Homo sapiens: one gene and its partners. The protein of the gene in region 6 purifies or fractionates together with the protein of the main gene of each other region. This does not show direct contact. Each region holds a gene or a part of one and is shown on either strand. Other genes may lie near its edges. The genes, in order: SCCPDH, ARMC9, OFD1, IFFO1, ITPRID2, KRT86 and ERGIC1.

Region 1 (4,356 bases), on a different chromosome or scaffold from region 6:
GCATTTTCCTATTTGCCAGTCTGCCCATTCCTTACTTTTACTGCATTTTGTCACATCTGGCCCACTTCTTTGAGTAATCTGGAGTTGAGACTTCTCACTAACTTATTCCTATTTTATGAACTTGCTAGATTTTTCTCCACTTAGTACCCTGTGCTTGTCTGAGACAGGTGAACAGTCAGAGTAGCAATCCTTCATCTCGGGGAGACACTTCTCCCCTGTGAGGCCAATTGGCTCAAAGGTCAGAACCGCAATCCTGCTCTCCATGTCTCATCTTCTTCTTTTTTCTTTTTGAGCTGGAGTTTCATTCTTGCTGCCCAGGCTTGAATACAATGGCGCAATCTCAGCTCACTGTAACCTCCGCCTCCCGGATTCAAGTGATTCTCTTGCGTCAGCCTCCCGAGTAGCTGCAATTACAAGTGTGTACCACCATGCCCAGCTAATTTTTTGTATTTTTAGTAGAGACAGGGTTTCACCATGTTGGCCAGGCTGGTCTCAAACTCCCGACCTCAAGTGATCTGCCCACCTCAGCCTCCCAGAGGTTTGGGATTCCAGGCATGACCCACCGCGCCTGGCCCTCAAAGTTCCATCTTCTAACCCAGTGGTCTCCCAAGTAGTCTTCCCCTAAGGGAAGCGCAGAATGATCCACTGAGGGTGGAAGTAAATATCAGAACTTTTATCCATGTTAATGTTTACAAAAACATGACGTTCCGTTAACGGTTACTATATGGACTGACTACGAGACATTCCCTGGGCCATGTTAAGTGGTCATGTGTTGAAGACAGGACACAGCAGGTATCCTGATGGGGTTGTGGGAAAGTTTCCATCACACAGAGAGGGCCTCAGCACCACTCTTCATTCATTCAGTCGTTTTCACTTTACTGCAACCTAATGCCTGAATGAGGTTATTGAGGTTCTAAAGCTTAAACGCTGAGGCCTCAAGCATTTAGAGTGGGGAGGACAAAGACGCAGTGGAGGAGACGAGGACTTCCAGGGTGAAGCTGGTGGACAGGAGGAAAACTACGAGAAGATGACAACGTAGAAGCTGAGCAAAGAAAGGAGAAAGTGGTCAGCTGGATCGAATGCTGCAAGCTTTCAGATGAAGACTGGATTTGACAGGGTGGGACTTTAGCAGAGTAGTTTCATTGGAGGAGGGAGGAAAACAAAAGCCCAATAGGAGGCGTTTAAGATAGAGTAGGAGGTGAAGAAGCAGAGATAGTGAGTCATGAGAATTCTTCCAAGGAGGCTGCTAAAAAGGGGGCACAAAAAGTAGAGTAGTTGGAAGGGTATGTGGAATCAAGCAGCTTTTTTTAAAATATGGGAGATATCACATATTTAAATGCTGATTGAAATAATCCAGTAAAGAGGAGAAATTTGATAACAAGATAATGTGTAATTGTAAACATAAAGTGTTACAGGAAGTCAGGGACCCCGAACAGAGGGACCAGCTGAAGCCACGGCAGAAGAACATAAACTGTGAAGATTTCATGGACATTTATTAGTTCCCCAAATTAATACTTTTATAATTTCTTACACCTGTCTTTACTGCAATCTCTGGACATAAATTGTGAAGATTTCATGGACATTTATCACTTCCCCAATCAATACTGTTATAATTTCCTATGCCTGTCTTTAATCTCTTAATCCTGTCATCTTTGTAAGCTGAGGATGTATGTTGCCTCAGGACCCTGTGATGATTGAGTTATCCGTACAAACTGTAAAACATGTGTCTTTGAACAATATGAAATCTGGGCATCCTAAAAAAGGAAGAGGATAACAGCAATTTTCAGGGAACAAGGGAGATAACCATAATGTCTGACTGCCTGCGCGACTGGGCAGAAGAGAGTCATATTTCTCTTCTTGCAGAAAGCGAATAGGAGAAATATCACTGAATTCTTTTCCCAGCAAGGAATAACCCTGGGAAAGGAATGCATTCCCAGGGGGAGGTCTCTAAAATGGCCGCTCTGGGAGTGTCTGTCTTATGCAGTTGAAGATAAGGGATGAAATACACCCTGGTCTCCTGCAGCACCCTCAGGCTTGCTAGGATTAGGAAATTCCAGTCTGGCAAATTCTAGTCAAACTGGTTGTCTGCTCTCGTACCCTGTTTCCTGTTAAGATGTTTATCAATGACAGTGCGTGCCCAGCGGGACATGGAACCTCATCAGTAATTCTAATTTTGCCCTGGCCTTGTGATCTTGCTCTGCCATTTGCATTGTGATACCGTATTGCCTTTTGAAGCATGTGATCTCTGTGACCCACTCCCTATTTGTACACTCCCTCCCCTTTTGAAATCCCTAATAAAAACTTGCTGGTTTTGCAGCTCAAGGGGCACCACGGAACCTGTCAACAAGTGATGTCACCCCCAGAGGCCCAGCTGTAAAATTTCTCTTTGTACTCTTTCTCTTTATTTCTCAGACTGGCTGACACTTAGGGAAAATAGAAAAGAACCTATGTTGAAATACTGGGGGCTGGTTCCCCCGATAATAAAGTCTTTGAAAACTGTGCCCAATAGGAAGAGGACCAGTTTTTCCTTGTAACAAGAGATATGGCAGACTACAGGGTATGATGCAGATTGGCAGACAGGTAGGTAGGTAGATAGATCTGGTGGTAGGAAGATGAAGAAAGAAATTCTGTTATTAACCAGCTTCTATTTTCATAGTTAAAAAAAAAGAAAAATAAAATCAGATAAGAACAAGGAAAGAGAGACGGGATACTAAAAGTTCAAGGAAAACAAGGTTGTGAGCTGCTTCAGAGAGCAGGAGAGAGAATTCCTGAGGGAAATAGAGCAGAGCTGCCGGAGGTGCTAAGCACCACACAACGTTTGTAAACACATATTTGAAGTGTGACCAGTTAGCAGGGGGATACATTTTTCTCCAGCCACACTGTGTTACTCATGTTCAGGTGAAGAGCAGGCAGAGAATAACCAGGGCTGGGATTTTTCCAGAGTACTGAGGAGAAAAAGGCAAGGGAGATAGATGAGGGCGTCCATTATAGAGTGCAGCAGTGGACCTCATGGATGGAATCTAAGCTAGTTAAGAATGAGATGAATCTAAATCAACAACACTTCTATTTAATAGCAATTCAAAAACCCTTTTGCTCTCAATTAAAAATTATTAATATTTTAGATATTTAATTTTTAAACATCTTGCCAACTGTGATGGCTTCTTCAGATCACTAAATGTCACCAACATTCACCTTGTTACACAGGCCAAAAGTCTGATGGCCTGTGACTTGATGACTTTTTCACAGTACAACAGCAAAAGCCGTTCTCCTTTGAAAATATACTCTGGACCTAACTACTTCTCAGCACCACTACGACCCCAGGGCTTGTGCTTGCACCATTCCATTGCTCATCCTTTGTTATCTACTTTTCCACTCAGAAGCCAAAGAACTTCCAATTTAAATCAGCTGAAGCCCTTCCTTTCAACCATTCAACGCCTCTTGGTCACACCTGGAAAAAAAATCCACATCCTGGCCATGGCCCGTAAGATCCCACATGACCCAGCTCCCGGGTTGCTCTCTGATCCACTCTCCACCTCTCTGCCATGCCCAGCCACACTGGCCTCTGTCACACTCTTCAGTCTTGCCAAGCACACTGGCATCTCAGGACCTTTGTGCCTGCTGTCCCTGGAAAAGTCTCTCCTCAAAAGGTTCATGCAATTTGCTCTCATTTCATTCAGATCTTGGCTCAAATGTCAATTCCTCACAGAAACCTTCCCTGACCATCCATCTAAAAACACCAATATGCCAGGACCTTTTCTCCTTTCTTGGCTTCACTTTTCTTCAAAGCACTTTTCATTACCTCCTATTACAATCCTATTTTTCTGTCTTCCCCAAGAACGTAATGTCCACGAGGGATTTTCTGTTTTGTTCACCATTGTGTCCCAGGTGCCTACAATAGTGCATTTCACATGTGGTAAGCATCAATAAATATTTATTCAATAAATGAGTCGTTTTTTAGTCTTCTTTTTGTGCATTTAAAAAATATATTTACCCAGTAGTACAAGAATATAATTTATAAATAAAAAATATACTAGGGAGACACACTCAAACATTTTTTACCGAAGGGGTATATAGTAAAAAGGAAAGAAAATTCTGACAATCACAGATGTAACCAATCAACAAGCCAGCACACATGCCCTAAGGAGAACGTCATGGAGAGCCTGTCACTCACTCTCTCAGGAGACTTTGGTCATCTCCAGCTGCTCCTCGCAAGAAGAAAAAACTCCCCATATGGGGTTAAGGCCTTCAACCAACAATTCTGTCCTCTGTCCTTATGTTCCTCTGGAATATTTTGCTAGAAATGAATGGATTGTTTGTTCTGATACAAAGAAGGGTTGATTACTTACTGGTCCTACG
Region 2 (4,356 bases), on a different chromosome or scaffold from region 6:
ATCCTCCTACCTCAGCCACCTAAGTAGCTGGGACTACAGGTGCATGCCACCATGCTCGGCCAATTTTTTATTTTTTATAGAAACGAGGTTCTGGCTGGGCATGGTGGCTCACATCTGTAACCTCAGCACTTTTGGGAGGCCAAGGCGGGCGGATCACTTGAGGTCAGGAGTTCAAGACTAGCCTGGCCAATGTAGTGAAACCCCGTCTCTACTAAAAATACAAAAATTAGCCAGACGCAGTAGCACGTGCCTGTAATCCTAGCTACTAGGGAGGGTGAGGCAGGAGAATCGCTTGAATCCTGGAGGCAGAGGTGGTGATGAGCCGAGATCGTACCACCGCACTCCAGCCTGGGCGACAGAGCGAGAGACTCCATCTCAAAAAAAAAGAAAAAGAAACGAGGTCCTACTGTGTTGCACAGGCTGGTCTTGAACTCCTGGGTTTATGCGGTCCTCCTGCCTCAGCCTCCCAAAGTGCTGGGATTACAGGATTCAGCCACCATGCCTAGTCAAGGATTTTTAAGGTCCCTTCTAACCCTGAGAGTTGAGGTCTGTATAACCTCTGTGCCCCTGCAGCCCACTGGTATTCACAGAGCTATTCAGACTTCCTTTCACAGACCCGCCTTGTCAGTCTCACTCTTGCTCCCTGTTCCCTCCAACCTCCCCAAGCTAGAATGCAAATGCTGTGCTGGCAAGGGGCTGGATTTTGTTTGTTCACTGCTGGATCCCCAGTGCCTAGAATTAATAACCTGAAACTCCTCAGGAGGAAGGCTACAATTGTCTCAGTTCCTAAACACTGCATGGTTTCTTCTTTTCCTTCTTCCCAAGAAATGTTTGTGAAAGATCTTATATGGCCACACATTTCCTGGGGAGGGTACAGAGATTTAAAATGACATTATTAGTTCATCTATAAACACTTGTGCCATCTAAAGTAACTCTGAGCAAGTGCTCAAAAACTATTCTAGCACTATCCAACAGCAGCATTTTCCACAAGTTGGGAGCATCCTGAATTATCTACAGGGATGAAAAATAAGCAAAATGTTACCTGAATTGTCAATGATTTGGAGTCTCTGAAAGATCCGCCTACTGTTTTACACAATGGTTTTCCTTTTATTTTGCATTCTTTTGAAAATGTTTTCAAGGTGTCTTCAAATTCAGCAAAATCTAAATACTATAAAAAATAAATAATTCAATTCAACAGCAAAACAAACAAATAATCCAATTAAAAAACAGCCAAAGGATCTGAATAGATATTTATCCAAAGAAGACATTAAAAAGACCAACAGATACATGAAAAGGTGCTTAACATCACTAACAATCAGAGAAATGCAAATCAAAACCACAGAGACCTAATTACCTCACACCTGTCAGAATGGCTATTACAAAAAAGACGAAAGATAAAAAGTCTTGGCAAGGATGTGGAGAAAAGGAAACACTTGTGCACTCTTGGTGAGACTGTAAATTGGTACGGCCATTATAGAAAACTGTATGGAGGTTCCTCAAAAAAATAAAAATAGAACTACCGGCCAGGAGCCGTGACTCAAGCCTGTAATCCCAGCACTTTGGGAGGCCAAGGCGGGTGGATCACGAGGTCAGGAATTCGAGACCAGCCTGGCCAGCAAGGTGAAACCCCGTCTCTACTGAAAATACAAAAATTAGCCAGGCGCAGTGGCGCGTGCCTGTAGTCCCAGCTACTCGGGAGGCTGAGGCAGGAGAATCGCTTGAGCCCAGGAGGTGGAGGTTGCAGTGAGCAGAGAAAGCACCACTGTACTCCTGCCTGGGCGACAGAGTGAGACTCCATCTCAAAAAAAAAGAAAAAAAAAAGAAAAAATGGTATAGGCCAGGTGGCATGGCTCATGCCTGTAATCCCAACACTTTGGGAGGCTGAGGTAGGAGGATCGCTTGAGCCTAGGACTTTGAGACCAGCCTGGGCAACAAAGCGAGACCCCATCTCAAATAAATAAATTTTTAAAAGAAAATGTGTTATATAGGTAGGGTGCAGTGGCTCATGCCTGCAATCCCACAACTTTGGGAGGCTGAGGCAGGAGGATTGCTTGAAGCCAAGAGTTCAAGACCAGCTTGGACAACAGAGTGAGATCCTATCTCTACAAAAATTAGAATAAAACCTAGCTGAGCATGGTGGTGCACGTCTGTAGTCTCAGCTACCCAGGAGGCTGAGGCAGGCAGATTGCTTGAGCCCAGGAGTTCAAGGCTACAGTGAACCATGATGATGCCACTGCACTCCAGCCTAGGCGGCAGAACAAGACCTTGTCTCTAAAAAGATTTTTAAATGTAAATTTTTTAAAAAAGAATATATTCGCCATCACACCACCAAATTCCAAATCTGCAGTTGCACGGTGGGTGCCTCATCCCTGCTCCAGGCCCGTGGCTCTCGCAACCTGCAGGTGGTTACTCACACAGTTAAGCAGCAGCAAGCGCGAACCATTTCTTTAGCACCAGAAAGTTTAAGGCCTGGGCCCTACTTGTCAAAGCTTTTAGCGTAGGAAACCTAGGCCATTACCAGACAATGAGTTAAAAAAATTATGATGCAGCCACTCAATGAAATACTCTATGGCATTCAAATGTCTAGGGCCGATCATAGGCAGATGTTCATGCTATATTATTGTTGGCAGATAAAAAGCAAGCTACAGAACAATGTATCATCCCATTCTGTAAAACAAACTACAGGCATGTGAATATATTTTTACTATACATAGAAAAAAGTCTGGGAGGGAAATTTCCTTTTTATACTTCTGTAGTGCTTGAATCTTTTACCGTGGACGTGTATTGCTTTTATAATTTTCTTTCAAGGGACTTTTTAAGTGGCTTTAAGATTTGTTTAGTTATAAAACCAAAATGTAAATACATGGAATATTATATAATAGAAAAATAGCTCCAACATAACAATAGAAGAAACATTACAAGGCACTAAATAGTTTGTTGCATTTTAAAACACAAGTTTTCAAGATCTGTTTCTCTGTGACCTCTGCTTTGTATAATATACCTACCTCTTTCACTAGTCCAAGTAATTCAGATTCATGAGCCAGAATGTCCCCCATATTGAACTGTTACTGGTAATTAATTCTCACAGCAAAAATCTCTAGAAGGCAAAAATACAAGACAACAGCTTTCATTTCAACCACCTATGAAACTACAAAAAGGTGGTTGTGGTGAGCAGAATAATGGCCCCCAAAGACATCCATGCGCCAATCCCCAGAACCTGTGAATACGTGAGGTTACACGGCAAGGGGGAATTAAGGTGCAGATGGAATTAAGGTTGCTCATCAGCTGACCTTTAAATTGGGGGATGATCCTGGATTACCCAGGTGGGCCCAAGGCAGTCACAGCAGAGGGAGGGGGGCAGACGGAGGCAAGAGGGTCAGTGCCAGCATGATGAGATGTGAGAAAGACTCAACAGCCACTGCAGGCTTTAAAGGGGATAAAGTGGCATAAGACAAGGAGGGTAAGGAGCCTCTAAAAACTGCATAAGGCAAGGAATAGATCCTCCCACTGCATCCAGAAATGATCCAGCACTGCAGACACCTTGACTTCAGCTCAGTGAAAGCCATTTCAGACTTCTGACCTCCAGAACTAGAAGATATTAAATCTTTGTTGCTTGACACCACTCAGTTTATGGTCATTTGTTCAGCGGCACTAGGAAATACAATGGCTAAAGTCAAAAGAAACTCTTCCTACTCTTTCTACTAGCCCTCCCTCAAGGTGTACCCAAAGCAGTCATTCCCCATGGCCCACACCCCAGGCTCAGCCCAAAGCAGTTGCCCGTAACCCCAGAGGAATGAAAAGGTCTGGGCTCTAATGTTAACCATGCCATTCACTGGCACCTGATCTGAGACAACTCACTGAAGTGCAGAGCCTTTCTTCATCTATAAAATTCAGAATGTGTCAGAACTCATCGAATTTTTTTTTTGAGATGGGATCTCACTCCGTTGCCCAGGATGGAGTGCAATGGTGCAATCATAGCTCACTGCAAGCTAAAACTCCTGGGTTCAAGGGATCCTCCCTCCTCAGCCTCCCCAGTGGCTAGAACTATAGGTGCATGCCACCATACCCAGGTAATTTTTTTTTTTTTTTTTTTAAGTAGAGACAGGGAGACAGGGTCTTACTAAGCTGCCAAACTCCTGGGTAATGCAATCCTCCCGCCTTGGCCTCCCAAAATGCTGGGATTATAGGCGTGAGCCACCACACTCAGTCAGATCTCTTCTGAGTCTGTAACCTTACATTTTTCTGCCACTGCCTCCCCACCTCCTTTCTCTCCACTTCAATCCAATTTCTACACTTTTAACAAGTGAGCATTCCCCTCCTGCTTGGGACCCTCCTGTGGTTCCAGCGCCCTCCAGA
Region 3 (4,356 bases), on a different chromosome or scaffold from region 6:
AAACCACAGAAGTGAAACAGCTCCTGCCTTAACTGACTGACCAACCTTACGACATTCCACCATTATGACTTGTTCTGCCCTGCCCCAACTGATCAATCGACCTTGTGACATTCTTCTTCTGGACAATGAGTCCCAAGATCTCTCCACCATGCACCTTGGGACCCCCTCCCCTGCTAACAATAAATAACCACCTTTAACTGTAACTTTCCACTGCCTACTCAAGCCCTATAAAGCTGCCCCTCTCCTATCTCCCTTCACTGACTCTCTTTTCGGACTCAACCCACTTGCACCCAAGTGAATAAACAGCCTTGTTCCTCACACAAAGCCTGTTTGGTGGTCTCTTCACACAGACACGCATAACAGATATCATTATCTCTGAAAGGAAAATTAGCAGTGGGAAGAATGGGTGACTAGAATCTAGGAGGAAAAGTACCAAGGCCATTCAACAGCTTAGCACCCCCTGAGCATAGATATGGTAGGATAAGACCATAGGTCTGAGTCAGGGGACAGACAACGGTTAAGTACACAATATCTTCCTACATGTTTTCTGTTACTTAATTAGAAGACACCAATTTTTAAAAAAATTTTATCTTACCAGGAGCTATTTTGTTAGCTAAGAGTTCTATCCAAATTTTGGCACTAGGATGCCTGACCTATCTGCTACTCATAGTTTTTCTGGCTTCCAGAAATTTTACTGGGATGCTAGGTGAAGCTGGTAAGGGCTGTCGGCCAGATGTCTTTCTGAACCAGATGCATTTAAAGAGACTGTGTAAAAACTATTTTTTTTTTTTTGAGACGGAGTCTTGCTCTGTCGCTAGGCTGGAGCGCAGTGGCGTGATCTTGGCTCACTGTAACCTCTGCCTCCTGGGTTCAAGCGATTCCCCTGCCTCAGCCTCCCAAATAGCTGGGACTACAGGTGCACGCCACCAGGCCTGGCTAACTTTTTTTTGTATTTTAGTAGAGACGGGGTTTCACCATGTTGGCCAGGATGGTCTTGCTCTCCCGACCTCGTGATCCGCCCGCCTCAGCCTCCCAAAGTGCTGGGATTACAGGCGTGAGCCACTGCGCCCGGCCATGGAAAAACTACTTTTAAGGATAATGTATCTATAGTAACTACATAGATTTTTTTTTTTTTTTTGAGATGGAGTCCAGCTCTGTCACCCAGGCTGGAGTGCAGTGGCGCTATCTTGGCTCACCGCAACCTTCGCCTCTCTGGTTCAAGCGATTCTCCTGCCTCAGCCTCCCAAGTAGCTGGGATTACAGGCACTCACCACCACGCCTGGCTAATTTTTGTATTTTTAGTAGAGATGGGGTTTCACCATGTTGGCCAGGCTGGTCTTGAACCCCTGACCTCAAGTGATCAGCCAGGTTTGCCCTCCCAAAGTGCTGGGATTACAAGCATGAGCCACCGTGCCTGGCCCATAGATTATTTCTTAATATCCCTTCAAGCCACAAATTTCCTTTTGAAGTAATAGTTAAGCAAAAGATACTAGCTATATACCTCAGAATTATGCTAATATGGTAGTCACTATGCAAGTGTAGCTAATTAAATGTAAATTAAAAATTCAGTTATCCAGTCACACTAGCCACATTTCAAGGCTCAAAAGCCACATGAGGATAGCAGCTACCACATTAAACAGCATAGACACAGACATTTCCATAATCACAGAGAGTCACACTGGACGACACTTAGAGTACAGAATATAGGATCATTTACCATACTGAACTTCAGTAGAGATGGTCTAGTTTGCGGGCAGTCCAGAATATCTTGTGCTCCAATTTATTTATATTCTGCTAACATTACTACCAAGAGACTTGGCGATTAAGTCACAGACTTAATGGCTGGCAGAAAATAAGTATTCAAATGATTAAGTTCTAAATGAATTGGCGAATGAATGGATGAATAAATGAATGTCCTTGTGGGGATGATAGTGCAGGCAACAGACAAAATCCAAGGGTGTACCAACACAAAAGGACTATTACTAACAGATTATTTTAAAAGACCTAAAGAATAACTATGCATCAAAGCCAAGTTGCCAGCTTATGTTCATGCTACAAAGCCCATCATCAAGTCTAACCAATGGCCTGAAACCCACAGTAGTTATGGACTCTATGAATGGCTATTATCAAGGCCAAAATTAAGGCAATTTATTAGGTCTATATAAACATTTTTTTTTTTTTTGAGACGGAGTTTTGCTCTTGTTGCCCAGGCAGGAGTGCAATGGCGTGATCTCAGCTCACCGCAACCTCTGCCTTCCGGGTTCAAGCGATTCTCCTGCCTCAGCCTCCTGAGTAGCTGTGATTACAAGCATGCGCCACTACGCCTAGCTAATTTTTTTGTATTTTTAGTAGAAACGGGGTTTCTCCAGGTTGGTCAGGCTGATCTCGAACTCCCGACCTCAGGTGATCCACCCGCCTCAGCCTCCCAAAGTGCTGGGATTACAGGCATGAGCCACCACGCCCGGCCTGTATAAACATTTAAGAACAAAAGATATATAACACATTACTGAACACAACTCTCATTCTTTAAGGAAATATTAATACATCTAATACCCTACCAATTATACTTGAGAGGGATACCTAGTATACAAAGACACTTGGCCTAAAAGTTATTAGTTTTTTTTTTTTTTTTTTGCAGAAATATTCCCAACAGTGGGTATTTTTACAAACAGTATCTTTCAGCCTGTCTGTAGGGCCTTTGATACTGTCTACAGTTTTTTTAATTGAATATCTAAAAGTTATTACAAAAATGGAAATATAGGGGAAATGACCTGCAGAAATCAAATAATTTAAATCAAATTAAATTTTACTCTTCTCCCTAAAAATTTGCTTCATTCTTTTAGAGGAAAAAGTACATAGAAAACTGTTGCTGTTCTCTACAAAGATGACGGCTCCTACCTTTTTGATTTTCTTTATCAGATCCTGAAACCTGTTAAAAGAAAATATTTCACTTTTATTCAGCTATTCAGTTATAATTAACAAACCAAAGTAGATTACAGAAACTAAGCCATCTTACCAGTGATTTGTAGAGACTGGAAGTAGGGTTGATTTTAATGAGTTGTAATAGATCCTGCATAGTAAATACCTTAAGAAAAAATAGGTTACTAAGTAGACATATTTTTATATCAGTGTTTAAATGATAAATTAGGATATGTTTCTGAATATGAAATTAAGAAACATCCTTCAGATTAAATAAGATTATAACTATGCTAATAAAGCAAATTTCAAGCTCTTTCTTACACTGTTAAATAAATTACTATAAACATATCAAGGTCAAAAGGATAAAATATCTTTATCATCTAATTAACTTCTAAGTACTTCACATCAAAGATGATATGCCTAAATGTTTAATGCCTTACAGATGACACTGAAATATCTGATGAACCAATGACTACATGACTGAGTTCCTGGGTCATTCAATTACAATTTTTTAAAAAGTATTCATTGTTTAAAAATGTAAATAGATTTTTACTGTCCTTAAAACCGTAATTAAAGTGTACTTAAAATATTGTTTAACAGACATTTTGGGTAGCTATTAAAATATATTTCTACTACAGTATATACCATTCACTATGTCTGCTCTGAGAACACTGATATTTGTTTTCAATTGGTTTTCCTTTAAAGTAAATATTCTGCATGGGCATTTTACATTAGTAGAAACCGTTAAGTTGTATGAATAGGATTAATTCCTGCTATATAATTGTATTATTGACTATTACACAATAAGTAAAAGTATAAAGTGATTAGAAAGTTAGAGAATGATGTATCAAAAATGAATTCCAGGCCAGACACGAGGGCTCATGCTTGTTATCCCAGCTCTTTGGGAGATTGAGGTGGGCAGATCACCTGGGGTCAGGATTCGAGACCAGCCTGGCCAACATGGTGAAACCTCCTCTCTACTAAAAATAAAAAAGTTAGCCAGGTGTAGTGGTGGGCACCTGTAATCCCAGCTACTTGGGAGGCTGAGGCAGGAGAATTGCTTGAACACAGGAGGCAGAGGTTGCAGTGAGCCAAGACTGCGCCATTGCACTCCAGACTGGGTAACAGAGCAAGACTCTGTCTCAAAAACATAAATTAATAAATAAATTCCTAATGCTGACAAATAAAATTTGGTTGCTTATGAAGAAATGCAAATTATTTAAGTTTTCATTCAAATACTGTACTAAGCTTGTGTCACTAAAACTTTGGAATATGAAACTTTTGGATAATTACAGAAAACACAAAGAAAGTAAAAACATATGAACACCACCAAGAGTGAAATTTATTTTATTTTTGAGACAGTCTCGCTCTGTCACCCAGGCTGGAGTGCAGTGGCATGATCTCGGCTCACTGCAACCTTCACTGTAAACTATGGCC
Region 4 (4,356 bases), about 46 Mb from region 6:
CTGATAAAATCTCACTCTCTCTGCCGGGCGCGGTGGCTCACGCCTATAATCCCAGCACTTTGGGAGGCCGAGGTGGGCGGATCATGAGGTCAGGAGATCGAGATCATCCTGGCTAACACGGTGAAACCCCATCTCTACTAAAAAATACAAAAGAAATTAGCCGGGCGTGATGGCGGGCGCCTGTAGTCCCAGCTACTCAGGAGGCTGAGGCAGGAGAATGGCGTGAACCCAGGAGGTGGAGCTTGCAGTGAGCCGAGTTCAAGCCACTGCACTCCAGCCTGGGTGACACAGCGAGACTCCGTCTCGGAAAAAAAAAAAAAAACCTCACTCTATCCAGACCAGGACATGAACCCTCCCTCTGTCCCAAGGATCCACACTGTCTATACTGCCTGCCCATTAGTTACTTAGGAGCCATCTCAGTGATGAGATTGACTGTCGTGGTATGGCAGTGCCCGTGTTCAAGGAACCCTTATTTTTACTTCATAATGGCCCCAAAGCACAAGAGTAGTGATGCTGGCAATTTGGATATGTGAAAGAGAAGCCAAAATATGCTCCCTTTAAGTGAAAAGGTAAAAGTTTTCAACTTAATAAGAAAAAGAATCCGATGCTGAGGTTGGTAAGCTCTACAGTAAGAATGAATCTTCTATCCGTGAAATTGTAAAGAAGGAAAAAGAAATTTGTGCCAGTTTTGCTGTCACACCTCGAACTGCAAAAGGTACCGCCACAGCGCACGCTAAGTGCTTAGTTAAGATAGAAAAGGCATTGAATGTGTGGGTGGGAGACATGAACAGAAACACGTTCCAGTTGACAGCAACTGGACCCAAGCTATCAGGAGGTCAGTGCTATCTTTGGTTTCAGGCATCCACTGTGGGTCTTGGAACACATGCCCTGAAGATAAGGGGGGACTACGTATGAATCTCCCATGTGGGCCTGAAGAGAGGCTGAGACGCAGAGAAGGCTCCATGCCTCTCCCAAAGTCAGAGCGTCGGGAAAGGACCACCTCACCAGGCCAGGAGAGCTCACGGGGGTCCCGTCCATCCCTCCTCCCACAGCAACAGCAACCTCCATTCTGTGGTTCCACAAATCCTTCTTCCTTTGTTTGTATTTTTGAGACGGAGTCTTGCTCTGTCGCCCAGGCTGGAGTGCAGTGGTGCGATCTCGGCTCACTGCAAGCTCCGCCTCCCGGGTTCACGCCATTCTCCTGCCTCAGCCTCCCGAGTAGCTGGGACTACAGGTGCCTGCCACCACGGCCAGCTAATTTTTTTTTTTTGTATTTTTCGTAGAGACGGGGTTTCACCGTGTTAGCCAGGATGGTCTCGATCTCCTGACCTCGTGATCTTCCCGCCTCGGCCTCCCAAAGTGCTGGGATTACAGGCGTGAGCCACCGCGCCCGGCCTCCACAAATCCTTCTTGCAGCTCCTAAAGCCTAGAGTTTGAGCTAAAGCACCAGCTCCACTTGCCTCTAGGTACCTCTAGAAGGTACTTCAAGGCTTGGGAAAAAGCATGGAGATTTCTCTGTTATCTCAAAGGCTGAGTGGAAGAAACAGGAAAGTCCCAGTCCATCTCTGAGTGCCATGGCACTGATAGTGTTAATAATAATAAAACAGTCCCCACTATGCTACACTCGCTATGAGCCAGACACTGCCCTAAGCTCTATATATGCATTATTTCATCTGATCTTCTAAACAACCCTATAGGTGAGGTATTATTAAATTCCTCATTTTACAAATAAAAAGGCCCGGCACAGTGGCTCATGCCTGTAATCCCAACACTTTGTGGGGCCGAGTTAGGAGGACTGCTTGAATCCAGAAGTTTGAGGGCAGCCTGGAAAACATAGTGACACCCTGTTCTCTGTAAAAAAAATCAAAAAATTAGCCGGGCGTGGTAGCACACGCCTGTGGTCCCAGCTACTTGGGAGGCTGAGGTAGGAGGATTGCTTGGATCCAGAAGATCACGGCTGCAGTGGGCCTGGAGTGACAGAGCAAGACCCTGTCTCAAAAAAAGAAAGAAAGAAAGAAAGAAAGAAAAAGAAACAGGTGTAGGGCTGGACACATGGCTCATGTCTCTAATTCTAGTACTTTGGGAGGCCGAGGCAGGAGGATCACTTAAGCCCAAGAGTTTAAGACCTGCCTGGGAAACACAGGGAGACACCATCTCTACAAAAAAATACAAATAAAAATTAGCTGGGTATGGTGGCACACACCTGTGGGCCCAGCTACTCAGAAGGCTGGGGTGGGAGGATCACTCCAGCCTAGGCAACAGAGTGAAACAGAGTGAGACCTTGTCTCAAAAAAGAAAGGACAGAAAGACAAGGGAGAGAGGGAGGGAGGGATAGAGGGGGAGGGGAAGAGAGAGAGAGAGAGAAAGGAAGGAAGGAAGGAAGGAAAGAAAGGAAAGGAAAGGAAAGGAAAGGAGGGGCTCAGAGGGAACAAGTAACTTATTACAAGTTCAGGGTGGTTGTAAGTAACAGAGCTGAGATTTGAACCGATATCTGTCTGTTTCCAGAGCCTGAGGTCTTCAGAGCCCACCAGGAGGACTATAGCTGAGAGATCACTCCTCCTCCCAAGACCTTGGTCTCTAGGGTCCTGCAGCAGGGATGAGGCCACTGCGCCTGCAGCCCCACTCAAAACCCTCTGGGACACCACGCCCCTGGCTTCCGCTCCTGCCCTTACCTCTATCTGGTCAATGGTCTCCTGATACTCCTTCTCCCGGGTTTTGAACAGGGACTCCGTATCTTTAATCACCTTCTCCAGGCTATCTTCCTGCTGCTGGAGTAGAAAGGGAAGCGGGGGAGGCCAGCCAAGGAGGGATGGGATGGGACGCATTCCAAAGGGCCAAGTCAGGGAGAGAGAGAGAGAGGAAGTCTGGTTAAAGAAACTGGAGAAAGAAAAGCAAAAGGATAAAGGAAGAGGGGAGACGCAGGTAGAGGATGACAGCCACATGGGGGGACAGAGCAAGGAGAGGAGCGGGGGAGTGGGCTTCAGGCTGGAGAGGCAGAGCCAGAGGGCCCTGAGGCCGGGAGCAGAGGTTACCTCTCCCTGGGCCTCTGCAGCTGCCATGGCATAGCCTGAGAAATCCTCCCAAAGCAGCAGGGTCTCCTCAGTCTCCTCCCAAGTCAGGCTGTCACAGTCGTCCTCAAAATCATACTCCCTCCTAGAGACAGGGAACCCGGGTGTCAGGGCGGGCGGGGCCTCGTCCTGGCGGGGGACTGGGGAGCTCCGGCCTCCTGGGCTGCTGTGGCGTCGGTGCTGCGGGAGCACGGCCTGCGGACTCACAGCTGGTTGAGCATGCGCTGCATCTCCTCGTTGATGCTGAGGGCTGTGCTCTCCTCCTCATCCCCATCGGGCTGGCGGGGCCCCTCACTCTCCGACAGGGAGGTGTCCTCCTCGACGGCAGCCTTGCGCTCCCGCTTCCGCCCCCCCATGGATGGGACCTTAATGGGAGACAAGTGCAGAGACTACAGAGACGAGGCCGGGTGCATGAGGAGAAAGGGCGGGAGCGGGAGGCCGGGCAGAGAGGGTGGGAATGGGGGAGAAGCATGAACCAGTAGGAAGGGGGGGCAGACAGAGAGAAAAGTCACAGTTACAATGACAGGAACAGAAACACGGACAGTCACCAAGGGCCAGACACACAGCGGGGGTCAGGGCTGCAAACCGAGAAGGCAGAACAAGAAGAAATCGAGAAGAAGAGCAGTCAGACAAGGAAGGAAGGGCTCGCTGGGGCTGCAGTCAGATGTGCATGATGGCTCAAGAGGAAATTTTTTTCTAAAAAAAGTCTTTTTGATTAAATGACTCAACTAAAAAAAAAAAAGCTTTAGGACGCAAGGAGGATGAGTGTGCAATGTGTACAAAAGAGAACCTGAATCACATCCAGATCTGGAAAGCCGGGGGAGAAGGGAGAGAAAGAAATGCAGTCAAGAGAACAAGAGATAGAGAGAAAAAGGGGGAAGAGCAAGGAAAAGGGAAAGGGCAGAAAAAAATCCGTGCTCAAGAGCCCAGCGGGCCCAAACTGAGGGCCAGGAGGCCTAGGCAGCTTAGAAACTGGGACTGGGACATTAATAAGCTTGCGTGAGATCAAACTAACCAGCTTCTTCTGTGGAGGAAGCAAGAGAGAAGATGAGAGGAAGAGAGGAGAGGAAGCAGACAGAGGAGAGAGAGGGGGAAGGGAGAGACGGCGTTAGAGACAGCTTCCACGATGCCCCTCCTGATGCTGCTCCTTACCCCCCAGTCTAGCCCCGTGAGGGCCCCAGTTGCCAGGTAAGGCTCCCCAAGCAGGAGGCAGGGCCTGCGTTCCAGGCCAGCCGCCACGGAAGCATCCACCTGCCCCACCCACCCCTGAGAGCAGAGGGCAGCTCCG
Region 5 (4,356 bases), on a different chromosome or scaffold from region 6:
TGTATTCTCTTTTTTTTTTTTTTTTTTGAGATGGATTCTCACTCTGTCACCCAGGTTGGAGTGCAGCGGTACAATATCGGCTCACTGCAAGCTCCGCCTCCTGGGTTCACGCCATTCTCCTGCTTCAGCCTCCTGAGTAGCTGGGACTACAGGCACCCGCCACCACGCCCGGCTAATTTTTTGTATTTTTAGTAGAGACGGGGTTTCACCATGTTAGCCAAGATGGTCTCGATCTCCTGACCTTGTGATCCACCCGCCTTGGCCTCCCAAAGTGCTGGGATTACAGGCGTGAGCCACCGCGCCCAGTCGCCAAAATGTATTCTTGACAAACCAGGAATGTGTGCCAATCTTTTTTGGGAGTACAGGCATTATTGGAATAAAGTATAAAAGAATCCCTACCATCAAGCATGATATAATCTCAATGGACACAAAATGAATACTGTTTCATAAAATATATTTCTTATTTATTTATTTTTGTGACAGAGTCTTGCTGTGTCATCCAGAGTGGAGTGTAGGGGCGCAATCTCGGCTCACTGCAACCTCTGCCTCCCACGTTCAAGTAATTCTCCTGCCTCAGCCTCCTGCATAGCTGGGATTACCACCACACCTGGCTAATTTTTGTATTTTTAGTAGAGATGGGGTTTCACCATGTTGGCCAGGCTGGTCTCGAACTCCTGACCTCAGGTGATCCGCCCACCTCGGCCTCCCAAAGTGCTGTGATTACAGGCGTGAGCCACCACACCTCGTCGGTTTCATAAAATACTAAAGGAAAAATAATTTATTGATTCATTAATGACATAAGAACAAAAAATTTTGATAAATGAGAGACTAGTGTGGGACAAAATTCTCAGAGAATGGCAGCTTTTACATGGTATGTCACAACAAAGAAAGAACAATTTCAGATGACAGTGGAGATAGAAAACTCTGTAGCAAGACGGTCTCAAATAAGAGGGGAGTATAATGGAGCCTGACTGCCAAGACAGTTCCCTCTAGAGAGCAGAAGGGAATCAGAATAGGAAGGGTGAGGTCAGATGGAAGGTGTACTGTGAGCTCCTTCAGCGAGCAGGTCAGGTCTCATTTATCAGTGTATCTCAGCATACAGTAAGAACTCAGTAAGCGTCTGAATGAATGAATCAATGAGAGAGTGAGAAAGCACAAGGGTGAGAGACAATATCAGACACAAAAAGGAAGAGAAAGCAGAAAAACGAAAGCAGACTACAGATAAAATGGCCCTGAAAATGATACAATGTCTTTATTAATTTATTGAATGAATAAATGCATGGACAAATAATTTAGTTCTAAAGTCTCCCATGCTATGGAGAGGTTGGAAGGATTAGAAGTGAGGAAACTACCCTGGGATGGATGGTAAAATTACCTTTATGAGCATAATTTCCAAAAAAATGTAGGCTAAATACAGACTACCTGAGATTGAGAAAGTCATGCTGATCGACAATACAAAAAGACTGACTACAAGTCTGAAGTATGTGGGAACACATCCACTTATTATGCACTTACTGAGTGCCTACTAAGTGGCAGCTATTACAAGTGATCACTAAAAGAAATTTCCATAAGAACACATGAGCAAGCTGTGTATTTACCAAAATACATGGGTAAAACATGTCAGACGTGCTCTAATAAAGATCCCAAAAGGCATGAATCAAGTCTATGAACTCTAATTAACAAATAACTCTCTAAACACAAAGCAATCTATGTTTACTCCTTGACATTTAATTTTGCTGAATTGGCTTCTGTGGGCATGTATTCATTCATCCTATTAAGTAATCTTTTTATTTACACACATTTATACATTTTTAAAGTAACTGCAAACAGTTTCAGGCCACTGATCACATACATCACAGATGACTTGGGCAAATTTTAAGACAGTGTGTACTTTTTTCCTAGTACAATGCACATGCAGAAAAGAGGTATCTTTAATATGACAAAAGTTTAGCTATGTAATTAGTGTATTAAATATTTGTCTGAAAAGACTTTCAATGTTGTCCTTCAAAAAAAGAATTCTACTGTATTAACACATTATAAATGATGAAAACCCTCTTTTTAAAAACCTCACTTAATGGTACAACGAAAGAAACAAAGGCCTGACAGATACCATTGTTTTCATGCATCCATGAACGCAGTAAGAAAACTTTCCTGAAAGTGCCTGCCAAACATGCTTAATCCTCACCTGCAAAACTGTTCAACCCAAGATTAAATCTTGCCTTCCTGAATGGTGGCTTTGTTAATGGGATTAGGGGCTCAGATCTGCTAGGAAGACAGAATCTAATTTAATTTTCTTGGTAGCTGTACACCAAGATTTTAAAAAATTGGAATTTAGTACAGTATGTATTTAGGTAAAAAGGTTACCAATTTGAATGACTGGAATAAAAACCAAACTAAATTTTAAATACTTTATAAACAGAAAACTATTGTAACTAAGAGAATATTAACATAATTTTTTAAATTATAACTGGCATTAAACTATTAAATATGCTTTTAAAGTACTTCAAAATAATTTGTTTTCTTAAGTACAACAATACTCCTCTTATGCCTTGTTTGATCTATACATATTTTGCTGGGTAGGCCCTTTGTAGACAGTAAAAGAATAAATGTTAAACCCAATTTCCTCAAGCCTATGCCAAATTCAGAACTAAGTAGTTTCTAATTAATGGTTTAAATAACAAATTCTGAAAAATTCTTTGAACATTTGCCTTGCATACCAGCTTAAGTGTTTGCAAATTATAAAATCTTTCATATTTAATGAGAGGTTCTTTTAAATGATTAATTCTCTAGGACCAAGGCAGCCTAATGGGAATAACTAAATTTTCTATATGCTGTGTCTTATAAGCCAAAGAATCAATGTTCTAGTCTGAAATGAACACTTTATTCTTAGGAAATCACCTACAGGACATATCAGGCCATTAAAATTCTAAAAATGAGGATTCAAGTGTGCATTGAATGGAGTATTTGTTTTAAAAGAGCAATATAAAGTTTTCAAAGAAAACTTTCATACCAAAGCAAGCTAAGGGGAACAAAACCATCACATTTCTAGAAAAAAAAAAATTACCTTAAAACCCACTTCCTCAGTTAGCAAATATAGTGTGGAGAAGAATAATTACATAATTTCACTCAAAAACTAATCTTTGATATAAAACATGTAAACAGGAATGGATTATTAATCATAGACACACCTGACCGAGTAGGGTGAATGCTGAGTTTGCTAAACATTAGGCAGCCAAAACCAATTTACAAAAATAATTACATTTGTAGGAAAAATAAATTTATAGAATTAAGACCTTTTAAACATTTAGTTGGTAGAGTCATATCATGAAAATAAATTACAGATATGAAGTCTTCTGCTATAATGCTTGTTTTGAAAATGTGATTTGATTCAACATGATTGAAATACTAGAGAACTGCATATACAGCAAATTTCACATTTGCTTATGTACAATTTAATCCACAGAATACTACTAGGTAAACAGAGATAATTGCATTGAGCTGTTTAAACGATATATTCTATTCCTTCCTATTACCTGATCTCAGTGCAAAAAACATTTATTTTACTAATTTTCTCAACTTTTGAACTTTCACTACTAATCATATGTAATTTCCTTTTGCAGTTCTTTTGGTCATCCATAACTATGGTAATTCTTCAAGTTCTTATGCTGCTATCACCTAGGGCAAACCCTCTTTTCTTCGTATATTTTGATTTTTGAATAAAAAACACCAAACCAAATCAATCTATTTATACTTATTAAAATCACAAAATCATTTTCTCCTATCAATTGTAATTATAAAATGCAGTTTCTTTTTTTTTTGAGATGGAGTCTTGCTCTGCTGCCCAGGCTGGAGTGCAATGGCATGATCTTGGCTCACTGCAACCTCCGCCTCCCAGGTTCAAGCAATTCTCCTACCCCAGCCTCCCGAGTAGCTGGGACTACAGGCACATGCCACCACGTCCAGCTATAAAATGCAGTTTTTAATCCTCGAAGAGATCTAAACTGTAAATCCTCATTTTGTAGATGTGGAAACAAGAGGTCCAAAGAGTACGTCATGTTTATTTTGAGTCCTTCACATATCTTTTTCACCATACTGAACACAGAGAATTGTAATTATTTCACATTAGAGTATGAAATTTGCAGAAATGCCATTACAAATATATCTTAATTGACACAAACTTGATCAACAGGAAAGCTAATTTAAAAGCTCTGTGAAAATTATTGAATACAGTGAATCAAAAGAACATTCTGTAAATAATTAATATTCAGACAAAATCTCCTCTAACATATACCTCCAAATAAATGAATGAAACACAGATTTTACCCACCTCCCGTATGACTTGCTGCAACTCATCTT
Region 6 (4,356 bases):
GTTCAGATCACAGATGAGGTTTCTGGGGATGGTGCCAGGAAGAGGGTGTCACAGGCCATCTGGAAGGGAGCTCAGCTGTCCCAGCCCTTCCCCTGTGTCATCTGGAAGTCAGTGCACCCTACTCTCTCACCCTGGGGCTGCCCAAACCCCTCTGAGTTCAGCAGCAGTGGTCACATGCCCCCCTCCCCCAACTCCCTGATGTCTAGCTTGTGCCCCAGAGCAGCCTGGCCACACTTTTCCTTCACAAGCTCCCTCTATCTGAACTGTCAGCTGAGTCTGCATCTTGAGTGCCTGTGTGTGTGTGTCTGTGCATGTGTCTGTCTGTCTGTGTGTCTGTGTGCCTCGCCCATCAGACTGGGATCTCAGGCAGGCAGAGGTCTTTGTGCCTCTGACTCCATCCTTAGTGCCCGGCCCTGGCTGTGTAGGTGGTGGGGGTTCAGGAAGGGTGTGATCCAGGACACCCACCTTGTCGATGAAGGCCGCGAACCTGCTGTTGAGGGACTTGATCTGCTCCTTCTCCTCCTGCTTCACGCACTGCGCGTTGGGGTCGATCTCCAGGTTGAGGGGCGTGAGGAGGCTCTCGTTGACCGACACGGTGGTGATGCATGGGGGACTGGGCCCGCACACGCCCCCGGAGCGGTAGCCGAAGCTGCGTCCGCAGGAGCCGGCCCGAAAGCCTCCGCACACGCTGTGGCTGCCGAAGCCCCCGGTGAGGCCGCGGTAGCAGGAGATGCCACGGTAGGGGGCGGCGGTGATGCAGCAGCGGCCGGGCCGGGGCCCGCAGGCCGAGATGCAGCTGAAGGCGCGGCCACCACAGTAAGATCCACAAGTCATGGTGCTTTTTGGGGAAGAGAGGAGGTTCTGAGGATGGAGACGTCCGAATGGAGAGCACAGTGGTCGGGGCGTCAGGCGTTCACTACTTGCACCTCTGTAGGCCTTTTATATAAGTGGGGAGACTGTGACCACGTGGGTCGGAGCAATTAGAAGGCTTTATGGGCTTGGGTTGTTTAGCTGCTGTCGCTCCCCACTTAATGTACTTAATTGGTGCCCAGAAGCAGCCAGATGTTATGATCTCTTGCCCTAAACTGCAGTTTTCTTCTTCAAAGGACCAACTCACGTCCCGCACACCCACCTCAACCTCCCAATACACAGTTGAGGAAACTGACGTTGGACGAAGGAGTGGGCAGTGACTCAGGTTGGAATGGAAGGGAAGGGGCGGGGCTGCTGCTCTTTCTGTCCTGCGGGGTTTGACATGGTCAATGCCGCTGTCCGCGGTGCTCATAGGACTAGCCAGGAATGTTGGGAGGGGGAATCCCTTGATGTGGAACTTGGGGGGCGCTTGGTGGTTTCTCCGAACTAGATGACCTGTTTCTGCACCCCAAAAGACCCACGTTTACAGAATCTCTAACTTAGTCACCTTCTCAGGGACCCAGTTCCTCCACACCTACTCCCAAATCCCTTATCTATACCTATCAACATGTTTTTTTCTCTCTCTCTCTCCCACTCTCTGGTGCACACACACATACACACACAAACTCACACACAATGCACTCACATGCTGGCCTTCCTACTCACAACCCCCCCTCTCTCTTTCACATACACACTCACACACACAATGCTTTCACATGCTGGCCTTTCTACCCACCATCTCACACACACACACACACTCACAGGTCCTCACCTGCACATTCAACTAGCATGTAGACTAGTCCTCAGGCCACCTTATTAGGTCATATTGGCCAGCCTCGGCTGAGAGGAGGCATTCCCTCCCTCAGAGTGTCCCATGCGGCCTCAGGAGCACACACTAGCCCACTGGCCCCAGGAAAGCACAATTACCTCCCACAAGGCCCTAGACAAGGATTGAATGTCTGGATGTCCTCTCAGGCCTCTGTGTAACCTCCAGGGCCTAGAAGGTCTGGGATGAGCACCACTGTTATGCATCTATACAGTATCTGGCTCAGAATATGAGATCAAATAGAGCCACATGAGGAGAGCATCCAGCCCCTGCCATCATCCCCTGAGTCCCTGCTGCTTTCTGCACTATACTCCTTGAAACTCCTGCACAGAAGTTTGTCAGTACCCTTGGCAGGTGCCAGAGAACAGATCTATATTTGTATGTGCCATCCATCCAGTGTGAATAGTGTGGGTCTTAAACTCACAAAGGCTGGGTAGGAACCAAGGCTCTGCCCTGAGTACCCCTGTGTGATCTAGGGGAAGGCACTTGACTCTCCTGGGAAATAGGTTAAGGCTTTCCCTCCTACTACTGCCTTAGAGTTACAGAAATGTGTACATGCTCAGTGGACTCCAGAGCACAGAGCAGATGGGCTTCATTACAATCATTAGGAAGCGGTGGGCTCAGGGGCAGTGTTTATTCAGAATTCATGTTCTGACCCACTAATTGAACCAACCAGAATTTTATTTTAATGAAATTGATTATGAGAAAATCAAATAGAGTAGAATAGACCAGAAAATAGCAGATTGCACCTTATGTCATGGGAATAACTTGTTACATGCCCTTTTTGTTTCAGTTGTATGGCCTATGTATATGTATGTGCATACTCAGTCACCATGTAAAATTATTTCTTATTATAGTTGCAGCAGAAAAGTTGAAATATCTATTTCTCACTGTATACAAAAACCAAATTAAAATGGATTAAAGACTTAAATATAAGACCTCAGACTATGAAACTACTAGAAGAAAACATTGAGGAAATGCTTAGGGCATTGACCTGGACAAAGATTTCTTGATTGAGACCTCAAAACCAAAGGCAACCAAAGCAAAAAATGGGCAAATGGGATCACATCGAGCTAAAAGAACTTCTGCACACCAAAGGAAACAATCAACAAGTTGAAGAAATGACCTACAGAATGGAAGAAATATTTGCAAACTATTCAACTGACAAGGAATTCGTAGCTGCAATATATAAGGAACTCAAACAACTCAATAGCAAGTAAACCAAATAATCTGATTTTAAAATGGGCAAAAGATCTGAATAGACATTTCTCAAAAGAAGACATATACATGACCAACAGGTATATTGAAAATGCTCAACATATCATCAAAGAAATACAAATCAATACCACAATAAGATTATCATCTCAACCCAATTAAAATGACTTTTATCAAAAAGACAAAAAAATTATGGATGCTGGCAAGGATGTGGAGAAAGGGGAACACTTGTACACTGCTAGTGGGATGTAAGTTACTACAGCCACTATGGAAAACAGTATGGAGTGTCCTCCAAAAGCTAAAAATAGAACCACCAGGTGATCCAGCAATCCCACTACTAGGTATACATCCAAAAGAAAGAAAATTCTTATATCAAAGAGATGTCTGCACTCCCACGTTTATTGCAGCGCTATTCACAATAGCCAAGATTTGGAATCAAACTAAGTGTCCATCAATGGATGAATAAAGAAAGTATGTTACAGATACACAATGGAATATTATTCAGCCATAAAAAGGAATGAAATCCTGTCATTTGCAACAACATGGATGGAACTGGAGGACATTATGTTAGGGAAAATAATTGAGGTACAGAAAGACAAATTTCAGATGTTCTTACACATATGCGAGAGCTAAAAAAATTGATCTCATCAGATAGAGAGTAGAATGATGGTTACCAGAGGCTGGGAAGGGTAATGGGGAGGGGAAGATAAAGACGTGTTAATGAGTACAAAAATACAGTTAGATAACAGAAATGAGATCTAGTGTTCAGTAGCACAATAGAATGACTATAGTTAATCATTTATTGTGTATTTCAAAATAACTAAAGGAGTAGGCTTGGAATGATCCCAACACAAAGAAATAATAAATGTTTGAGGTGATGGATATTCCAAGTACTCTGATTTGATCAGTACACAGTTTATGCTTATCTCAAAATATCTTATGTAGCCCATAAACATGTATAACTATTATGTACCCATAAAAAGAAAACATTAAAATAAATAAATAAATAAATAAAAAGTTTGAATACATGGCATATTAGTTAAGCACACAGACTCAGATTCCAAACTGCCTCGTTTCGAATTCTAGCTCTGCCACTCTCTAGCTGTGTAAACTCAGGCAATTACTTAGCCTCTATGTACCTCATTTCATGATTTCTAAAATGAAGATAATAATAGTACCCACCTCATAAAGTTGTAAAGATTAAAAGAGTTAATCCATGTAAATCACTGAGAACTAAGCCTGGCACACTCTAAGTGTGTAATCATATTAGTTGTTGTTGTTGTTGCTGCTGATGCTGCTGCTGCAGACGTATCAACAGCATTGATGGGATATACTCATCCACATGCCTAAGCCATCTGTGTCCAGTTTTCATTAACCGCCTTATCTTAAAGAACTTGTAGAAGGAT
Region 7 (4,356 bases), on a different chromosome or scaffold from region 6:
GCCCTTGATCTTGAACCATCATTACAAGCATGAAGAAGTACAGAAGCATAAGGGCCTCCCAATGCCATATTTATCTTTAGGTCTCAGTTTCCAAATCTGTGAAGTAGGGATAGCCACCCTGTCTCTTCCACCTCAGCTAACTCTGGCTTCTTCAGTACCTCCTGGGCCTCTTGGGTGAAGAAGGGCACCCTGACCCTCCTGTTCTGACCCTAAGGACCTTCTGAATGGGAGGCCAGGAAACAGTAGACATGATAGAAATAATCAGCATAAAGGAAAACTAACATCAGCTTGAATCTGCCCTAGAGAAAACTGGATGTGGTAGAGACCATGGCAAAAAAGAGAGAACAGAGAGGAAGGAAAGGGAAAAATCGGACCCTATCAGCAGCTATAACTGGAAATTAGACCTGGAAAAAAAAATGAGTTCAATCTTTGGTGCAAAATTTACACATTAAAGGATAAACTCTGCTAAGAATAATTTCCATAACAATAAAAAGCTGGAGAAAATCCTAAACATCTAGTGGAACCATATGGAGATTTGCTTCAGGAATTAAATGGATTTCAGGGCATTCCCCTCTGGAAAATACTTTCTAGACAAAACGTCATCGATACTGATGTGTTTCTGACAACATTTCTCAGCATCCTTGGGGTCGAAGCCTCCTGTGCCCAGCCAGAGCCCCTAGCCCTGCAGGCTGCCTCCTGTTTCAGCGAGAACAGGTGAGGGGTGCCAAGGAAAGGGGCCCAGAGCAGGCGCAGGGTGGCTGGCTCAGGGCCCCACCCACTGCCCCAGGCCACTCACCGTGGTGATGAATCTGTACAGCGGCTGCCGTCTCTCTGTGTACTTGACCGTGATGGGGCTGAGGTCGTAGCGGAACCAGATTGCAGGGATGATGCGGCCCGTGTGGCTGTAGGCGACGTATTCCTGGGGTAGAGGATATAAGAATCAGAAGTACAAACTGTGTCTCAGGGGGGGCGGGGACTGGATTGCAGAGGGCCCCCCAGCAACCCTCCAGAAAGGGCTTTCCTCCCTCTCTGCCCCACGAAGCCAGACTCCCCCACTCCCTCTCTCACATCCCTTCCCCTGGAGGCCCTGAACTCTGCCGTGCACAGCTGGGCATTTTTGATACCCTTGGTTGTTTAGAAATTGACCAAGTGAGCTGCAAGCAGCACCAGAATCAGAAAATAAATTAGAAAGCAGAGCTGTAAAAGGAAAAGTGCAATTTTTGGCTATTGCCTCCTTCAACCTCTGGGCCACGCGAAATCCATTCATTTATTCAACAATGGTTTGCTGAACGCCTCCACTGTGGTGGCCCATGGCTGGCTGCTGGGGACCCCGAGGTGAGCAAGTCCTGCCCTTTACCCAGAGGGAGTCGCAGTCTGCAGAAGGAGGAAGACATAAGAATATCCCTAACACTGTGACATCATGCATGTGGGATGGAGGAACATGGAGAGTTGAGGGGAATGAATGAATGACCCATTCTCCCGGGCGGCATCTGGGAGACTGGGGAGGGGACATTCTGAGCCACACATGATGAATAAGCAGGAGTCCCAGTGTGTGTGTGTGTGTGATGGGTGTAAATGCCACGTGGGGAGTGGGCTAGCTTCTTCAGAGGAATAGACTGAACTGCAAAGCCAGAAGGCCCCGCCCTGCCACCAACCTTCCTGAGAATGCACACAGCAGGGACTAAGGATACTACGAGGCTGAGCTAACAGTGCATCCTTGGGCCAGCCCCTCCCTCCCTCAGGGACTTGGCTTCCCCATCTAAACACGGATGGGCCTGGGATGATGATCCCTGGGATCTCTCCAGTTTGGGCACTTCAAGGTGCTAAAGTCTGCAACAACTGGAGGCCAAATTGAACCACTGGGGTACCCCCAACCCCACATGCTGAGCCTGAGGAGCCCAGGCCACTCCGGGGGTAAGTAACACTGAGCCCTGACCTCCCGCTGGGTCGCTGCTGCCTGCTCCCAGGGCAGAGTGCGGCTGCAGCCATAGAGAAGCTAAGCAAGCTGTATTTGGCTGCTGGGCCTTGCCAAAGCATTGGGAAAAGGAGCTTTGTGCAAGGGAAGACCAGCTTTCTCCAGGAGAGCTGCTGGGGCAGGATGACTGTCTGGGTCACAACCCAGAGCTGAGGGACAGAGAAAAAGAGTGAAAAATAGCAGCAGTCAGTATCACTTACCTAAAGGCTTTTTTTTTTTGGTGGGCTAGGCATTTTTGAAAACATTGCCTCATGTGACAGCACTCTTATAAAGTATCATCTCCATTTTATGAATGAGTAAACTGAGGCACACAGTGGCTATGTGACATGTCCGGGGTCAATAGCTAGTGAATGACTGAGCTGGAATTTGAACTGCAGCGTGGTCCTGAGCTTGCATCTGTGCTTTTCCATCTGTTAGCTGCTATGAGCATGTGAGGGTTACAATGAGATGCCCCCTGTGAAACAGTGAATAAAAGAAACAGGGGCTCCCGGGAACATCAATTTAGGGTGAGTCAGAACAGAGGGACTAAGTCATTGGACAGAGAGCAGCTCGCAGGTGGGCAGACTCACAGCCCCTTCCTCAGACCGAGGCGTGAGGTGATCAAGAAGCCAGGCTCTGGAGCCCAAGGAAAACCTGTTCTAATCCCCACTCAGCCACTTTATAGCTCTACAACCACCTCTCAGTGCCTCAATGGTCAAATCAACAAAATGGGCTCAATAACAGTCTCAACATCAGAGCTGTCATGATGATTGAGAAGACGGAAGAAGAGAGCTTAGCATGTCTAGCCCCCAGGAAGTACTCAATGAGTGACAGCTATGCCTCCTACTGTTGTTATAATTAACTGAGCTAAACAGGTATCACTTATAAGGGGTTTGGGCAGCCTTGGAACAGAAGAAAAAGGACAGTCCTGGTGGTAAGTGGGAAAAACCCATCCGCCAGGGTCTAGCAGGGGCATTTCAACCAACAGGTTTCAAGTATTCATGTCCCATTGGTGGGATACCCCCAGGGAAGCCCAAGGCTGTCTTGTCTTGAGACCACTAATTGCTGGGTCATCCCACTCTGCAGACTCTGACCATGCTCTGCTGCCCACTAAGGCCTGGCGTCTTCTCCATGACTTTGAGTGTTGGGGTCCTGGGGACACCCCTGTCAATCAACAGCAAATTAATCAACAGCCATCTTGGTGTGACTCAGTAGCCTCATGAGTTTGGGTAAAGTGCCTGTGCCCTGAGAGCAGGAGTGTCTGTCTGTGTTGAGCACCCAGGGGTCTGTGTCTGAAGGACTCGGACCAGATGCAGGGCTGTTTGAGACCTGCAACCCCAGGACCTTTGTAGGACAGAGACTACCTGCTCTTTGTCAAACGCATCACACCCTATCTCCTGGTTAGATCTGTTCTCCTTGACTCTGAGACTGCCACATGGCAGGGACTGGGCTTTTCAATTTTACCCAGGGACAGCGCCTGGCCCAAGCTAACCCCCAGGAAAGGCCTCCAGAAAGGAATCAGAAGAAAGTGCGTCGGTGCAGCCGCCTGTCATCTCTGCTCTCCGTCAGCAGAGGGCGCCGCCGCACACAGCTCGGCCCAGCCACCGCCCGCGCACCTTGTTGGCCACCGTGTACTGGTAGGAGTACCGCTGCTTGCCACTCTTGTCCTCATAAACCGTGGGCACAATCTTCAGGATGTAGTCGTGGGAGGCCAGGGCTGCGGGAAGGACACAGCAGAATGAAGCAGGGGGACGGGCACTGCCCGCTGACAGCTCTATGTCATTTCAATCCTAAGCCTAAATTCCCTGGGCACGGCAGGGGGCTCATTCCCCAGTTTTACCACCAACCAACTGCTCTTCATCTTCTCCCCTTGGATACCGGGAATTGGGAGACTCTATCCATCAGGATCTTTCCTCCTGCACTGTGCACATCATTAAAATTCTGGAAACAACCCAAATGTCCATCAATAGAGCAACCATGAAAGAGTGAGTGTTGGCCAGGCGTGGTGGCTCACGCCTGTAATCCCAGCACTTTGGGAGGCCGAGGTGGGTGGATCATCTGCAGTCAGGAGTTCGAGACCAGCCTGCCCAAGATGGTGAAACCCCGTCTCTACTAAAAATTCAAAAATTAGCCAGGCGTGGTGGCAGGTGCCTGTAATCCCAGCTACTCAGGAGGCTGAGGCAGGAGAATCGCTTGAACCTGGGAGGCGGAGGTTGCAGTGAGCTAAGGTCATGCCACTGCACTCCAGCCTGGGCGATAGAGCAAGACTCTGTCTCAAAAAAAAAAAAAAAAAAAGTGTGGGTGCTAGGAGCAGCTATTCTCCAACAGGGAAAAGAACCAAGTCATGGGACAGGATACACATGTGTCCATGGATTGGGGGAGGAGGAGACACTCTGTATCCA

What was found.
Region 1: the proteins of KRT86 (region 6) and SCCPDH purify together in Homo sapiens (affinity purification with mass spectrometry; one large-scale study listed by BioGRID and IntAct). This does not show direct contact.
Region 2: the proteins of KRT86 (region 6) and ARMC9 purify together in Homo sapiens (co-immunoprecipitation; one large-scale study listed by IntAct). This does not show direct contact.
Region 3: the proteins of KRT86 (region 6) and OFD1 purify together in Homo sapiens (affinity purification with mass spectrometry; one large-scale study listed by BioGRID and IntAct). This does not show direct contact.
Region 4: the proteins of KRT86 (region 6) and IFFO1 purify together in Homo sapiens (affinity purification with mass spectrometry; one large-scale study listed by BioGRID and IntAct). This does not show direct contact.
Region 5: the proteins of KRT86 (region 6) and ITPRID2 purify together in Homo sapiens (affinity purification with mass spectrometry; one large-scale study listed by BioGRID and IntAct). This does not show direct contact.
Region 7: the proteins of KRT86 (region 6) and ERGIC1 purify together in Homo sapiens (affinity purification with mass spectrometry; one large-scale study listed by BioGRID and IntAct). This does not show direct contact.

Annotation. Positions count from the first base shown.
Region 1 is NC_000001.11:246,726,995-246,731,350, reverse strand, and holds part of SCCPDH (saccharopine dehydrogenase-like oxidoreductase), read right to left. Parts: coding exon 4,347-4,356; intron 1-4,346.
Region 2 is NC_000002.12:231,204,939-231,209,294, reverse strand, and holds part of ARMC9 (lisH domain-containing protein ARMC9), read right to left. Parts: intron 3,098-4,356; 5' UTR 3,057-3,097; coding exon 3,006-3,056; intron 1,169-3,005; coding exon 1,043-1,168; intron 1-1,042. UniProt on the Homo sapiens protein: Involved in ciliogenesis. It is required for appropriate acetylation and polyglutamylation of ciliary microtubules, and regulation of cilium length. Acts as a positive regulator of hedgehog (Hh)signaling.
Region 3 is NC_000023.11:13,737,575-13,741,930, reverse strand, and holds part of OFD1 (centriole and centriolar satellite protein OFD1), read right to left. Parts: intron 3,086-4,356; coding exon 3,017-3,085; intron 2,930-3,016; coding exon 2,899-2,929; intron 2,888-2,898; exon of another isoform or gene 1,718-2,887; intron 1-1,717. UniProt on the Homo sapiens protein: Component of the centrioles controlling mother and daughter centrioles length. Recruits to the centriole IFT88 and centriole distal appendage-specific proteins including CEP164. Involved in the biogenesis of the cilium, a centriole-associated function.
Region 4 is NC_000012.12:6,545,393-6,549,748, forward strand, and holds part of IFFO1 (non-homologous end joining factor IFFO1), read right to left. Parts: intron 4,093-4,356; coding exon 4,084-4,092; intron 3,458-4,083; coding exon 3,276-3,457; intron 3,154-3,275; coding exon 3,033-3,153; coding exon of another isoform or gene 2,769-3,032; coding exon 2,673-2,768; intron 1-2,672. UniProt on the Homo sapiens protein: Nuclear matrix protein involved in the immobilization of broken DNA ends and the suppression of chromosome translocation during DNA double-strand breaks (DSBs).
Region 5 is NC_000002.12:181,922,384-181,926,739, reverse strand, and holds part of ITPRID2 (protein ITPRID2), read right to left. Parts: coding exon 4,328-4,356; intron 1-4,327.
Region 6 is NC_000012.12:52,298,395-52,302,750, reverse strand, and holds part of KRT86 (keratin, type II cuticular Hb6), read right to left. Parts: intron 937-4,356; coding exon of another isoform or gene 835-936; coding exon 466-834; intron 1-465.
Region 7 is NC_000005.10:172,931,751-172,936,106, reverse strand, and holds part of ERGIC1 (endoplasmic reticulum-Golgi intermediate compartment protein 1), read right to left. Parts: intron 3,672-4,356; coding exon 3,571-3,671; intron 920-3,570; coding exon 797-919; intron 1-796. UniProt on the Homo sapiens protein: Possible role in transport between endoplasmic reticulum and Golgi.